Regions from separate parts of the Homo sapiens genome. Here region 2 is linked to region 1. Evidence: fine-mapped expression QTL. Tissue or cell type: whole blood. Region 1 holds a variant in brackets; the other region holds the start of a gene. All regions are shown on one strand. Distances are between the middles of the regions.

Evidence for each region. PIP is the estimated chance that this variant, and not a neighbour inherited with it, causes the effect.
Region 2: it holds the start of FHL1, and the variant in region 1 is fine-mapped to the expression of FHL1 in whole blood (TOPMed, PIP above 0.99). The same link has a PIP of 0.9 or more in blood mononuclear cells.

What each region holds. Positions count from the first base shown.
Region 1 is chrX:136,139,000-136,147,108 of GRCh38, forward strand. It overlaps a transcript of FHL1 not described here. Among named protein-coding and RNA genes, the nearest start is that of FHL1, 54 kb to the right of the region's middle. RefSeq lists an enhancer at 4,393-5,592. The variant G/C (reference allele first, on the strand shown) is at 4,895.
Region 2 is chrX:136,192,349-136,200,457 of GRCh38, forward strand. FHL1 (four and a half LIM domains 1) reads left to right here and starts at 4,699. Exons shown (of 6, transcript NM_001159699.2): 1 at 4,699-4,786. The coding sequence starts at 4,765.

The DNA of each region.
Region 1 (8,109 bases):
TGCCTGAGAAAGCTGTGTCTGAGGCAGGTGGATTCTCCTTTTCCTCCTCCTTTTTCTCAACAGCCCTTCTCCCATTTTACAAAAGAAAGACAACCCCTTTCTCCATCACTAATCTGACTTTGATGTATTGCCGCAGGGGATATAAACCTCCCCGTGCCAAACAAAGGGAGAAGCCAAAATAAGGGTGTTGTTGTGGAAAGATGAGTGAACCTGAACGCTGCATAACAAGACCTTTTGCAACACAGGTGGTTTCCAATTCTTTGTCTTCAAAAAAACTTCTGAAGGATCTAATGGAATTGTCAACCAATAAATCATTAAAATTAATTTTTGACAATAGATTCAGGATGGGATGGGATTTCAGTTACATAACTCAGAAGAAATACAAAGGTTTGTATGGCAACACTGTGAGAAACGTCCTTCTACTTATTTATGTAAACAAAGCTTCTTAGCCTTAATATTTTTAAAACATGTAAAAAGTCAAAATAACATTGATACAGAGCCCTGTCTCATTCTAACCATAAACAATATTTATCCACAAATGGCATGAACTAATTAAAAAAGACTTCATCCATGTCTAAGAACTACATTTCCAAAAAAGTTTACATTGTGCATTTAAATTATTTTTCAAATCTTGTTAAATATTTAAGTTATTTTGATTAATTGTGTACTAAAGATAACTCTATCCAGAAAACTTTTTTATATTCCACCCCGTAGAAAACTTTTTTTTTTTTTTGTGAGATGGAGTTTCACTTTTGTTGCCCAGGCTGGAGTGCAATGGCATGATCTCAGCTCACTGCAACCTCCGCCTCCCAGGTTCAAGTGATTCTCCTGCCTCAGCCTCCCTAGTAGCTGGGATTATAGGCATGTGCCACCACGCCCGGCTAATTTTGTATTTTTAGTAGAGATGGTGTTTCTCCATGTTGGTCAGGCTGGTCTCGAACTCCTGACCTCAGGTGATCCGCCCACCTCGGCCTCCCAAAGTGCTGAGATTACAGGCGTGAGCCACCGCGCCTGGCCTAGAAAACTTTTAACACGTAGAACTTTATGGTAAAAGAATTTTAAAAATGTAATTTATGTACATATTTGCATTGCAGAGATGTATATAGAGTGATGAAAAACAGACTTACACGTGTAAAATATATTACATTAGTACAAAATTCTGTGAAAGAAGTGAAGGAGATATGACTTAAAGAAGAAAAAAGGAGCAATGTAAAATTTCCAACTGTTAATGAAGTTAATCATGTATAATATTTAAATGGCTAATGGTGGGTATGAAACAACTACTCTATTTAAATTTAATTGGATAGAATAAAAAAGTGATGTAATCATTTTAGAATGTCAGTATATACTATATGCCCCAAATAACTTCGTTTTGTAACTATTTAAACATTGGATGAAAAAGTTTAGATACCAGCTTGTAACGTGAATGGTAAGGTAAGTAAAATGTCTCACTCACTATTGTGTACCTAGTGCACCAAGCACAGGGCCTTTCTTATATTAGACAACCACATAAATTATTTCTAAACTGAATGGCGTGGGGGCACACAGGTTTTCAAAATTATTTTAGGGAGCATGTGAACAAAAATGTTTGAACACACCTGAGTTTATAACTTACCCTGGGCCACACCACCAACCAAGGCCAAGCTTAGACTTGAACCCATGTTTGCAAGATTCCAAGACTCCAAGACTCATGGTGCTTAGACTATACCTGAGGGAGATAAAGGATGCTATGAATGTTGGTCTTAATTATTAACTCCATTCTGCTTAGAAATAATTTATTTGGTTGTCTAATATGAGCAAGGCCCTGTGCTTGGTGCCACTAGGTATTAGGTTGGTGCAAAAGTAATTGCGGTTTTAATACGCAATAGTGAGTAAGCATTTTACTTACCCTCAAGAAGCTGAAAACTTTACATGAGAGATAAGCTGCCTTCATAAAATCTTTAATATAAGATTAAGTGTAATAAGGGCAAGAGACATTTATGATACGTACTACAGAAAAAGAGAGAGAAGAGAGGCATGGTGGTGCATGCCTCTGGTCCCAGCTATTCAGGAGGCTGAGGTGGGAGGATCACTTGAGCCTGGGAGGCTGAAGTTGCAGCGAGCCGAGATCGCGCCACTGAACTCCAACTGGGTGACAGAGTGAGACCCCGTCTCAAAAAAAAAAAAAAAAAAAAAAAAAGCAAAGAAAAGAAAAAGAGAGAGAGAGAGACAGAAGGGTTTGAGCAGGTTCCAACATCAGATAGACAGATCTTTGTAAAACAGGTAAAATTTGGACTGTGGTAGAAATGGGTGAAAGAAGGTAGAGAGAATTCATTCACCCATCCCTCCATTCACCCAAGAACCATTAATCAGAGACATAGCAACCAAATGTAATAAATGGGCCTTTAAAATTCGTGGCTGGCACAATGAGATGTCTCCTCACCCCAGTTAGAATGGCTATTATCAAAAGGACAAAAATAACAAATTCTGGGAAGGATGTAGGGAAAACTGAACTATTGTAGATGGTTGGTGGGAATGTAAATTAGTACAACTATTATGGAAAACGGTATAGAAGTTCCTCAAAAAGCTAAAAATAGAACTAGCCTATAATCCAGAAATCCCACTACTGGGTATATATCCAAAGGAAACAAAATCAATATGTCAAAGAGAAATGTGCACTCCCAAGTTTTATTGCACTATTCACAACAGCCACAATATGGAGTCAACCCGTGTCCATCAACAGATGAATGGATAAGGAAAATGTGATACACACACACACACACGCACACACACACACTGGAGTACTATTCAGCCATAAAACAAAAGAATGAAACCCTGTCATTCACAGCAACATTATGAGCTTGGAGGACATTATGTTAAGTGAAATAAGCCAAGAACAGAAAGACAAATACTGCATATTCTGACTCATATGTGGAAGTTAAAAACGTTAATCTCATGTAAGTACAGAGTAGAATAGTGGTTACTAGAGCCTGGGAAGGGTAAGGGGAAAGGTAGTAGTGATAAGATGGTTAATGCAAACAATGTTACAGCTAGATGGAAGGAATAAGTTCTGGTGTTGTATGGCACTGTAGGGTGACTATCGTTAACAATTATTGTATATTTTCAAAAATCTAGAAGAGCCAAATTGAATGTTCCCAACACAAAGAAATGATCAGGCCAGGCACAGTAGCTCACGCCTGTAATCCCAGCACTTTGGGAGGCCAAGGCGGGCGGATCACCTGAGGTCAGGAGTTCGAGATCAACCTGGCCAACATGGAGAAACCCCAAGTCTACTGAAAATACAAAATAATTAGCCAGGCATGGTGGTGTGTGCCTGTAATCCCAGTTACTCGGGAGGCTGAGGCAAGAGAATCACTTGAACCCAGGGGCAGAGGTTGCAGTGAGCTGAGATTGCGCCACTGCACTCCAGCCTGGGGACTCCGTCTCAAAAAAACAAAACAAAACAAAACAAAAAAAAGATCAGCATTTGAAGTGATGGGTATGCTAATTATCCTGATTTGATCATTACACATTGTATACATGTATTGAAATATCACACTGTACCCCATAAAGATGCACAATGATTATGTGTCAATTAAAAATAATAGTAAAAAAAAAGATTATTTCTTGACATGGAAAGATGCTTATCATTAAACAGATTACCAGGTCGCCAAAATAGAAATTGTTTGTATCAGGGGTCAACAAACATTTCCTGTGAAGAACCAGTAAATATCTTCAGCTTCGTGGGCCATATGATCTCTGTCACAACTACTCTGTTCTACTGTTGTACTGAGGAAGTAACCACAGATAATATGTAAACAAATGAATGTACTTGTGTTCCAATAACACTTTATTTCTTGACACTGAAATGTGAATTTCATATGAATTTTACATGTCACAAAAAATACCCTGCTTGAAATAAATGAACTGTAAAAACATTTGGGAGACATCTGGAGAATTCAGAATCCTGACTGGGTATTTTTTGGTATTAAGAAATTTTCGCTAACTGTTCCTAGGTGTGATGATGATATTGTTCTTATGTTCTAAAAAGGAGAAAAGCATCTTTATCTTTTAGCCATATGCACTTAAGTATTTCTGGATGGAATGATATGATGTTTTGCATTTGATTTAAAATAATCCGGTGTATGTGTGTTGGAGGGAATTGGTAGGAGAACTACAATTAAAACAAAATAAATCATGTGTTGATAATTTCTGAAGTTGGGTGTTGGGTGCATGGAAGTTCATTACATTATTTTCTCTATTATGTATATGTTTATATTTCACCACAATGAGTTTTCAACATGGCGAAACCCCATCTCTACTAAAAATACAAAAAATTAGCCAGGCGTGGTGGTGGGCTCCTGTAATCCCAGCTACTCGGAAGGCTGAGGCAGGAGAATCGCTTAAACCTGGTGGGTGGAGCTTGCAGTGAGCAGAGATCAGGCCACTTCACTCCAGCCTGGGCAAAAGAGTGAAACTCCATAACAACAACAACAACAATAACAACAAAACAACAACACTATTATAATTTAATGCTTACCATGTTCCAAGAAACTGGAAGTATAAACAAGGAAAATACATTGCTTGCCCTCAAGGAGCTTATGATCTGCTGGGGAAAACAGACACATGAAATGACCAGGTATGTCACGATTACCTATCGGCATGAACCAAATGACCAAATGCCACGGGAGAACTGGATTCTGCCTGAGTTGGTCAGGAACGGCTTCAAAGAGACGGTGAGGTTTCACTATTTCAGAAGTAGAATTTCTAGGACTTGATGACCTACGGGATGTGAAAAAGATGGAGTCAAAAGTAATAGCTTTTACTTTGCCCACGTGGGTGGGTGGTGTGCCATTAATGGAAACAGGAAATACGGGGGGGGGCGGGGAGGGGGCGGGAAGAAATAGATCAGGGT[G/C]GGGGCAGGCAGGGGAGAGTTCAGCCTTGGACCTACAGGAAGTTGTTGAAACTGCTCTAGGCAGAAGGTTACTTAGTTACCGCAGTAACTAAGGTTTCAAGAGGGGAATGCACAGGATGTTTTTGGAGATCCTTCTAGATCCCGGACTAAGAGCCTACAGGCTGGGGAGAGGCAGGAGGTAAGGCTGGCTGGAGAAGTAGATGTGTTCTCTGAGAGCTGTTTTGGGCTCCACCATTGACAGGACACGTGATGATCATGAAATGGAGCCACTGTTTCCCTGTGGATTCCATTGACAAAGTCAGATGAAGGTCTTAGCACCACTTTGGGGGAAAAATAACTAACCTGAAAGAAGCAGCCACTTTGGATGACTGTAATAAAAGTGATGAACAGTCTTTTTTCATTGTTTTGGAAGTGGAGTATACAGGTTTGGATTGTGGGCTCTGGAAATATGCTGCTTGGTTTTAAATCCTGGTTCCAAGGTTGCTTAAGCCTCGGTTTCCTCATCTGTAAAGTATCTCATATAAGAGTAAATAAAATGATGTATGCAAACTGTCCATTACATAATACATTTTCAATAACTTAGAATTATTAGTTCTAATGGTACTTTTTGAAGAGAATGTAAAGGACTTGATTACTTTGTGTGCTGATAAATGCTCCATATTTCCTTCCAAGGAAATTCTTGGAAATTCTTGCTTAAATTCTATTGAAATTGAAGGCCGTTTTCCTCGTGCTCTGTTCCTTGGAAAGGCAAGAAGGAAGAATGAATAAAGGAAGAGGGAGAAAGGAAGGAGTCTTGAGAAGAATGAATCACAACTAACACTGATTGAATGCCAAAGAATAGCCAGAAGTTTCCCTGAAAGAGGGTGCTCTGTCCAGAGCCTTCCATCATGGGTGCCTCTTGGCTGTTTCTTTTGGGCTGGGCTGTTTCTTTGGGCTGGTATGGGGTGGGGAGTTGTCTGTGGCCAAGCTAATTGTTCAATGCCTTTCCATGATGGAGTGGGGGCAGATTGGCTTCCTCTTCTCCTAGGCAGTGTAGCGGGACTTCTCTTGCCATCTAGAAGGACCAAACTTCAGTGCTTCTGAGGGCTTAGAAGGGGAAAAGAGAAAGCCCAGGCCCCTGGTGCTAGGAGCAGAGAAGGGTACTTTGTAAGCGCTTATGCTGCTGGTTCTCTGGTAAGGGAGACCACTAGCCAGTTTGTGCGACATGGGGCAAATAGGAATCATGAGGATCTATTTGCTAGATCTGTGTATACCACACCATCCCTACACCCGCCCCTGTCATCATCATCTACCTCCATGGTCTTCTGTACAGTGAAGAATGACTTTCGGCAGATGGAGGGCCAATTCTCCCCATGAATCCAGCCCTTATTCCATCTCACCTAGGCAGGGGACTTGACTCCTTTAGTAAACCCTCCTGTCATGCCTCACCAACCCCTCTCTACTGATTATCCCTAAACTGTTGACCAACAGGCTCTCATCTCTCAAATCACAAAGAGAGAAGAGAATCTTTGCTTGTCCCTACTCGCTCCTCCAGTTCTGCTCCATTTTTCTTCCCATTTACATTGGAAAGTCTCAAAACAGTTGTCTACCCTATGCTGTCTCTACTTCAACTCCAATTCCCTCTGCAACCCTGTTCCATCAAATCCTTCCACTTTCCTCCACTAGCACCACCCTAATCTAAACCACCATCAGCTTTGATAGGAACTATTGAGAAAGCCTCCTAACTAATCTCCCTATTTAAATTTTTAATCTCTTCTGAACCATTCTCCATATAGTAGTCAAGGTGGTCTTTTAAAAATGTAAACCAGATCTGGAATACTACTCAGCAATAAAAAAGAGCAAGCTATGGAAACACCCAACAACTTGGATGAATCTCAAGGGACTCAAAACCGAGTGAGAAAAGCCAATCTCAAAATGAATATTGTATGATTCATTTACAAAACATTCTCAAAATATCAAACTTACAGAAATGGAGGACGGATCAGTGGTTGCCAATGGTGAAAGACTTGGGGAACTGAGGAGATAGTTATTGCTGTTTTATAATTACAATACAACAGGTAAGATCCTTGCAATGATGAAACTGTTTTATAATTGACCATGGTAGTGGAAAGAGGCCACACGTGATAAAATTGTATAGAACACACACATACCAGACGTGCACGCGCGTACACACACACACAGTAGAAGTAAAACTGAAGAAATCAAAATAAGATTGGTAGATTGTATTAATGTCAATATTCTAGTTATCTTATAGTGTAGTCTTGCATTGGGGGAAATTGGGCAAGGGGGACCCCAGATCTCTCTGTATTATTTCTTACAAATGCATGTGAATCTACAATCATCCCAAAAGACAAAAGTTTAGTTAAAAGAAATATAAGTCAGACCGTGTCACGCCTTGGGGTTAAGCCACTCATTCAATGCCCTCCCATTGATTTTGGAATGAAGTGGCCTGCCCATGGACTGCACCTGCCCATGGACTAGTATGCAATCCACGATCTGGTCCCTGCCAACCTGTCCAGCCTTACTTTCTGGTACTCTCCCCAGCTTTCCTGGCGCCAATCATGATCACCACCTTTTAGTTCCAAAGCATCAAGATTTGGTCCCTCCTTCTGACTTGTTTTCTGGAAAGCTTTTTCCTGGCTCTTTCATATCTTTCAGGGTTCAGCTTAAATGTCACCTCCTCCTTTCCTAATCACACTATTTGTACTTTTCCTGCACAGGCTTTATCCAAATTTGATTATTTTCTCACTTCTTTATTGTCTGTCTCCCCCACTAGATTACAAGCTCCCAGGGCAGGGTGCGTACTGTCTGCAGACAACGCTGTTATCACCAGAGCCCGGCACTGAGCTTGGCACATGGCGAGGGCTCAGTAAACTGAATGCTGAGTGAATGAGACGCCACGCGCCGCTTTGCCATCGGTGCTTTCTGAGTGACGTTAAAACGCTCTGGATGGTGGCACTGGGATTATGGATGGGGCTTATTTAGCTCCCTCCGGCTTGCTACTAAGGGGAGGGGTCGTCGGTGGGCCTTTCGGCGCCGCTGCAAGCCACCGGGTTCCGAAGTCGGAGGCCGAAACGGCGTGGGCCCCGAAGCGGGGCCGCTTTTCAGGGAGTGCGCAGGTTAGCGAGGACCCCGGTGAGGCGAGACGCCACCCTCACTTGGCTGTCTTTGTTGCTCCCACCTCCCCAGCCCCAGCCGCCTGCAGTGATTCGTGA
Region 2 (8,109 bases), 53 kb after region 1:
GAAGGGCACAGACTTTGGGGACAAGAGACATTTAAAACTGTTACTGATCATGACATTACCAAAAATCAAAAGACAGGGGCCATGGCTCATGCTTCGTAATCTCTCTGTGAATATTATAAGGAAAATTCTAAGCCCTGGTCAACTGTGAAATGAACAGGTCTTCAGTGGAGTTAATTAGCATTTTCCAGGTGCTTTGCTGTTTACAGTGTCCTTTATTTCATGTATCTTCTCATTTGTTACAGGTCTTCTTTCATACCTTTTCCTTTTCTCTGAGATTCAGAGACCCTTTGGGGAGGCTGAATTTCAGGTTTGTTTTCATTAGGACCTTACATGACCAAATCCCCCCTCTTGGGGTTCCAGGGGTGCTCCTTCATTTTACTCTCTGATGGGTATGCCATGAATTGTGACATTTAAGCAGTGACTTTGCAAAATTGGACGTGTCAGTAGGAAAAAGTACTCTTCCCACCTTAAAGATTGACAGGAACATGAGATGGCTGAAGCTGTTCTGAGCTTTTTTCTGGCAAGAGTACATAGGACAAGAAATACTCTGGAGAGCTCAACATTGAATCACATCATATCATAGTGCATGACTAGTTGCCTTAATCTTGCAGTTGGACTCACTCAGGAGAAATTGTTGGCAGAGGGATTAAGTAGCCTGACAAAATTATATTGAGAAAAAAACTTGCAGTCTATTAATTTATTAGTAGTAGATATGAGGGAAAGAAGAGTCATGTAAAAAAAAAAAAAAACAACTGGACATGAAACCACGGAGAAATCCACAAAGACTCCATTACAGTTTGTTATCAGCCTCTTGCCCCTGGCCATGACTAATGGCCAGTAATTGTCTGAATAAGTTTTTAACCATTTGGAAATTTCTTCAGGAAAAGAAAAATCTAGTAAAGGGAGAAGGGTGACCACAAGTCAAGCTGTGAATGAGGAAGTCCTGAAATGTGGGCTAAGTGGGTCACTGAATTTGCCGTGTTTGATTCTTCGGTTGCACCACTTTGAACTTTTGAAGTTTGATCCTCCCAGTGGTGTTTCTGAGGTAGAGAGGCTAGGATTAGATTGCAGTGTGAGAAATCCCACAAACGTGATTCTACTGTAATCTTACTGTTCTCTCTCGCTCCTTGATAACTGGGATCCCATTAAAGGGGGTTCATTATTGACATCTCAGAAGAAACTCATTGTGAAGTCTAAAATAAAGTGCCATTCTTCCCTACACCAGCTCTGCCTCCCATATTCCCCATTATTTTCCCAGTCACCCAGAGTCACAACCTCAGAGAGATCCTTGGCTCCTTCCCCTTCTTTCAGTTCTTGTAGCCCTGTCACAGTGTCCCTTATATCTAGTTTTTCCTTTCCATGCCCATTGCCCCTGCCTCTCATTCTTTCAGTCTTTCCTTGCATCTCAGTGGACAATTGCATTACCCTGTGCTGTCTTCCCTGCCTCCTCTCTTCTCTGAGATCTGCTCTTCTTATCACTGCTTGCATGACTCCATCTCATTCTCCCCTTGCACCAGTTGCAGAAAGATCCTCCGTGTGTGGCTTTCCCTCCTCTCTAGCTTTCGGTCCTACTACTTCCTTATCTTGTGCTTCTGTCACACCCCAACCCCCCCCAGCTGCATCCTGCTTCTTGAACACGTCCTGTGTTTTTCTCATACCTTAGGTGACATGGTACCATTTTCTTGGAACACTCCCTCCCCCTTGTCTGCATGCCAAAGTCTTAATCATTCTTCAGGGACCAGGTCAAATGCCGTGACATCCATCAAGTCTTTTCTCATCTCCAAACCAGATGTGATCTCTCCCTGTGATAAATGTCAGTAACACTTTATACCTTTCTTGTAATACTTGTAAGGCTCTGCCTTGCATAGTAGTCATTTGCATATTTATCTTGTTACACTTGAAAGTAAGGACTGTATTTTATTCTTTGTGACCAGTAAAATACCTTGCACCACATAGTAGGGCATCTGTCCAATAAATGCTTGTCATATACAATAAAGCAATGGCTGGGGCGGCATTATCTACAGGTTAACCCAATAATAGGTCATAATGTATCTGCAGATAGTAGGACCATAAGGATGTGTAGATAAACCCTGAAGTAAATGATTCGCAGAGGGTCACATGGAAGGGAAACAGGGAGTTTGATACCTAGCACTCACTGAAAAAAGCGTCCGGATACTGCTAGAGTGTGAGACTAGAAGGCCTGAAATGTAACCATCATACACCAAAGAGAGTTGCTCCCAAACACCAGCCAACTCCACCAATAGTATATAAAGGTGCGTTGTAAACAGTACAGTGATTCTTAAAGATATTATTAAACATCATACTGTTAATATATAACAAGATTGACTAATATGCCAATGAAACCCGTGACTCCAGGTACCTGTGAAATAGCCAGCAAGGGTTCTGAGCCACTGATCCAAGACAGGACAAAGTTACCAACTATTCTTCCTAAGAAATTGTTTCTCATCATGCAAGGGGCTGTTTCTGTCTTGGTTTTGTGGAAGGTCTAATTCTGTGGCTTGAGGACATCTGCAGTAGGGCCAGATGTCAGAGCAGGTAGTGGTCATGCTTCATGAAGTTTTTAGGAGGGCACAGTTACCTGGTTGATGCAAATGGAAGTAACTGGAATAAATGCTATTGTTGCAGGCCCAAGCTCCCAGTCCATCCTGGCTGGTCATAGTTGACTAATTCATGGTGGTCAAAAAGTGATTCTCTTGTCTTTGAATTTTCTCTTGTATTTTAGGCAAAACAGATTTGTTTTTTGATACTTTCATAAAGCTGTCTATCCATATTCTGTTGTCACTTTTCAAAATGATCAGAAACCTAAAGAACTACCATACTTGCCTAAAAGAAGACACTTCCTGATGCATAGCTTGAAACAGGAATTGACTTCCTAAAGGAAAGTATTTGGCACACCAAGCCTATTGTTCACAGCGCTGCAAGAGAGGCATTTCAACATACATGGGCTCTTCCTAAAAATATAACTTGCTAAAATAAAAAATTCAGGGTTCATTAAGGTTAATCATCTAATAAAGTAAGAGAATTTCCTCTAGGTGAAAAGTTTCAGTTTATTTTAGGGGTGTGGTGTTGTTACAACTGGCTAATCTCCGCACCATAATTTAATCAGGCTGGATGAGAAAGAGACTAGAAAGGCGTGGAGCCAGAGCACAGTGTAGCTTCTCTTCTTTTCCCAGGCTTATTTTTTTCCTCTAACATGTAATAAATTTACTCGTAACAACCTGGCTTTTATTGTGTCATTTTCTAGCTAACTGGGAGTTACTGATGTCAGTTGTCTTTTAGAATAACTTTTCCTTAAACATTTGAAGATCGTAAGAATTGGGGAACTCATTCATTCATTTATTCATGGAGCATTTACTGCTCACCTACTGTGTGCTATAGGAACATGAAGACAAGCAAAGCACTGCCCTGGCCCTCAACCTGGTAGGGGAGATGTGTGAATAGGGCCAAAACCACTTAAACAAGACAGTGGCTATAAAGGTGTCTGTACCAGCGAGAAGGTCAGCTGCCTTCCTTGAAGTTGAGTGGCCAAAACCACTTTCAGGATTGCAGGTGGGACTATGTTTTGGAGGCTTGATGGATTTTTCAGTTATTTAGTTCATTCTTTCAAGGAATAGTTATTGAGAGCCTCCTGGGAGCTGGGCAGTGTTCTAGGCTCTGGGGCCACTGCAGTGAGCTCCAGTACTAAATCCCTGCCTTCATGGAGCAAAGCAGGAGATCAGACAGCAAGGAGAGAAATCAGTGCAATACCAGCAGACTTGAAGTAGGGAAAGGAACAACCATGACTCTGGGCACAGGGGACAGTGAGGAGGCCAGTGAGGTGGGAGTGAGGGAAAGGGGGCTAAGGGTAAGGCCAGAGAAGGAATGTGGAAGAAGGTCCTGGAGGGACTTGGGGGCTTTCTTTTCCTAGAACATGCTCCTAATAGCCAGCCCCCAGACATCTGATGGCCTGTTGAGCTATTACAACATTTTAGGTTGATGTCTTCATTTTCATTCATGTTTTTCCTTTTATTGTCCCTGATGCTGAAAAACAAGAGGTTGAGTTTGTGAGACAAAATGTCTTCATTGTGTGTGTGATGGGGATAGGCATAGTCTCCCCATCTTGTTCTGTGCTGTCTGCCGTTAAGGAGGTGGGGAGATTACGATCACTCTCCTTTCCTGTACAGTAATCTGCTGATCTCTGGAACATACTAAGGAGGACATAGAGTGACAACATCTATAATCCCCTTAATCTCTATATTCATACTGTCTAATCTCCTTGAGTTACACTGGTAACATAAGTCTATCTCTTAGAGTTACTTTTATCATTAACAGCACAAAAATGTATTATTTACAGGGCCAAATGCAAGCTCTTGAGGCATATAAAGTGGATTAATAAGGTTGGCTCAGCGTTAAGCTATGCCAGAGCCGAGTCCAAATTTTATTCCGGTACAGGGATGACTTTCTATGTGGCCTCTCTGGCTCTGGAGCTAATTTGGATGCTGAGTAGCCCCGCAGGTATTTATATGTAGCGTTTGGTATTTTTACTGGGTCCTATTCTTCTCCCTTGGATCACCTAAAATGGTTAAGAATTTTCTAGTGGGATTAAGGTTGTGATCTCTGGGGAGGGGTGGGACATCTGCTCTCGGTTATTTTTGTGTTAGCCGCTTCCCCTTAAATGTATGTTCACAAATGAGCCACAGCCTTATCAGCTGGGGTTGAGGGAAGACTGGTCTAGGTGCTGCTCCTGAACTTGGTCTCTGAGCCATGGCTTCCCATAGACACTCAGGTAAAACTTCATGCTCTTTATCTTATATTGAGCACAGTTTTGTTAGGGCAGTGAATCCGTCATTGGGCTAAAAGATGGTTTTTGATGAAATGATTTTAGTCTTGTCTGAATAGTAAATAAATTATAGCTTGTCTCTGTTTTGCCTTTGCCTTTCATGCTATTTCAAAGACAAAATATTGTTCAAGTACAATGAACAGTTTGAGTGATTTATTTTAAAAAGAAGTATATAAACATGTTACCACTATATTTTTACCTTTTTCAGGACATCTCATGAAACTATAAGAGATTGTGGGAGGAAAGGTTTTTCTGGTTAGGAATTTTTGGCTTTCTTTTTTATAAGATACAATTCTTCATCTTGACAGTGCTTTACATCCAAGGTGTTTGGAGAAGGTAAATCGAATGTGGAGCTGAAAGGAGGAACATTTGTAACTAAGAAAGTCCATAATGACCTAGCACATCTTCCCTTTTGCTGACAATGTTTTAAATCTTCCCGAAGTAACAGCTATGTTCCTTTTGATATGCTAAGTATGTTATTAATTGTTTTTAGCAGAAAAAGGGGCACATTTTGGACTCCTTGGGACATGAGCATTTTCTTCTGGTTTTGTAACCTTACAATTAAGGAAGCCCTTTGGCCATCGACAAGAAATCTATGAACTAGGGGCTGAGGGGCCAAAAGCCCAGTTATTTGAAGCCAGGAGGGTGGCTGTGGCCCTGTGGCCCTCTGCCTAAGTAACGGTTCCCTTTCTTGGGGCTGGTAAAGTCAGACGGTTAGATATAAAGAAGGCACTTCATCCTGTCTCCCAGCTTTCAGATTAAGGGATGTCATTATCTATGTTTTTTTTTTTTTTTGAAAAATCATTTTTTAAAACTCATTGCCTGTCAATATTTAAACAATGGAAATACTTTAGGAAATTTCTCTTTTTGGGGTTTTAAATATGCTGCAATGGAATGCCCTACCTTAATGAATTAATATGTAATGTCTTCCCTGTTCCCAAGTGTTCAAAAGTTGTCTGGTTTTTTTTTTTTTCCAACCCTCAGGAGCTGTTTCACAAACATGGTACCAAATGCTTGAGATTGTGGTTATCAGCCAAGATACACATTCTCTGGGTGTAGGCAAACTAGTCAGCTGTGCTAGTTGTCCTGATGAACCTTAAATGCATGTTACCTGGTAGAATAACTCTCATTTTGTTTACTAATTAAGTGACAGAATAGTGACAGAAAGTTTAAAAGTTTAAATAGTGACAGAAAGTTTATAGCATACCCAACCTTGGGTTTTAAATTGCACCAAATTCTTATGTCGTTCTTGTGTATGTAAGTCTGGAGGCTCTAATAACTGTGGCTAAATGGGACCAATTATTTATACCTTTTAGATGATTTTTGAATTCAGGAAATTGCATTTTGTATTGCATTAGGTTAATAGATTCATGAAAGCAGAGAAGAATCAGTCCATGAGACAGAGAAGTCCTCATAGAAAATCAGTGTTGCCCTGAAACGGGCTCAGTATGGGCAAAATAGAAGCTAGGATAATTGGATCCAAATCCATTTTTAGTGACTATCCATATACTGAGAGGACATTTCAAGGACAAAAACAATGTATACTCTTGACATTGAAGACTTTCTGTCTGCAAAATTATGTAGATTCAATTTCTTTAGCCTTTGGCCTTTCAAGTCGAAAACCAGGTTTGGGGTGTGGAGGGGGATCAGGTCACTTGCCATATTACACAGCCATCGATTCCCTTCACCAGCTGCTGCTCAGTGGGCCGCACAAGCCCGCCAGTCTTTTCTCAGGGCAGGGATGGAAAATGAGAGGGTAGGATGAGAGGAAAGTAATCCAACTGGATTGGCTTCTTAAAATACAGAAGATTTGAGTGAGAGTGAAACTGAACATTTTGTGCTTTTGATGACCACCAAATGACTACCTACTACTTCACCACAGCTGGAGAAACTAAAAACACATGCTCTTTTGCTGCCGGGTCAGAAATGCTTTTTTTCCCATATGAAAGAGGGGCTGTGTTGCACGTAATCTGTGCAACATTATGAAAAATCTTCATATACAGACAAAATGGTACTAGAATTGAATCTGGACTGCAGGAAGTTCAGTGGCACATAATTTTTCTTTTAATAATCTATATCGAACCCTCCTGACACCCGATATAATCTAAAATGGCATTAGTTATACATCAGTGACCCAAAAAAGATTTGTTTTTTTTCTAAATGCAGCATACCAGTGAAGTTGCTAATTACATTGAATCATTCTGTACACGTTCTATTTTGAAGGGAAAAAACACTTTCTGATTTTTGTATGAAATTGTATGAAAGACTACTTTTCAGCCGTGACTCATGAGCTCCGTCTCATTGCAGCTACTTAGGTATTTATTCCCAAATGTCTGACGACACCTCCAGGTGCATTAGCATGTCTATTACACAAGTGTCCTATTCATTGGCTAAGGCTTTGCTCCATCTGTTGAATGTTCTGAGGAAAGCATTATACCCTTTCTTTAGAAGCCAGTGTTTATATGTGGAGTCACTAATGTACTGGTAGGTTGGATTTAGTGAAGAACAGATCTGAAATAACCTGATTTTTTTCCATTTGGGTTGTTGTTCATTGTTTACACTGTACATTACACCCTTCATGGAAAACACATAGAAAAATGCTACCTACTCATGATATTCACATTCTCCTTAAATATTCATAGTTTGAGCAACTCAGGCATGAGGGAGAAGATGAACAATAGGAAGAAATACATGAGAAAATACATGTAAAAACACAAGCAAGATTTATTAAATACAAATCGACTGTAATGAGAGGTTTATAGTAAAAAAGAAAAAAGAAAAAAACAAATGTTGTAATGTTATATTACTTGTATGTGTACATGATTAAATTGAAAGCCAAAACTTTTAATTAAGATACTGAGGTTTATTTAGGCACCTCTCAGCATGTTGGATGTAGTTCAAGAATTTTCTGAAAAAGGAAGCTTGTTTATTAAGTGAAAATGATGTGTCTTTTGAAGCAGGCATAGAAAGTCAGGCTACCCTTTTGGAATAAATGTCTAAAATTTTATCACCCAGCCACATTTCTAACTGTATTCTAAGCTTGTAAAACTTTAATTTAGTTAATTTTTAATTAAATTATTTAATAATGATGCTTTCTGTCTTAGAAAATCAGGGGACATTTATGTGGACCTAAGGTGTAGGTTAGACTTCAGCACCTTACACGTCATATAAGATGATTTTTAAAATCAGGAAATAGTATGTCATATTGCATTAGGTTCATAAGTCCATGAAAGCAGAGGAGAATAGGCCCAAGAAAGAAGTCCTTACAG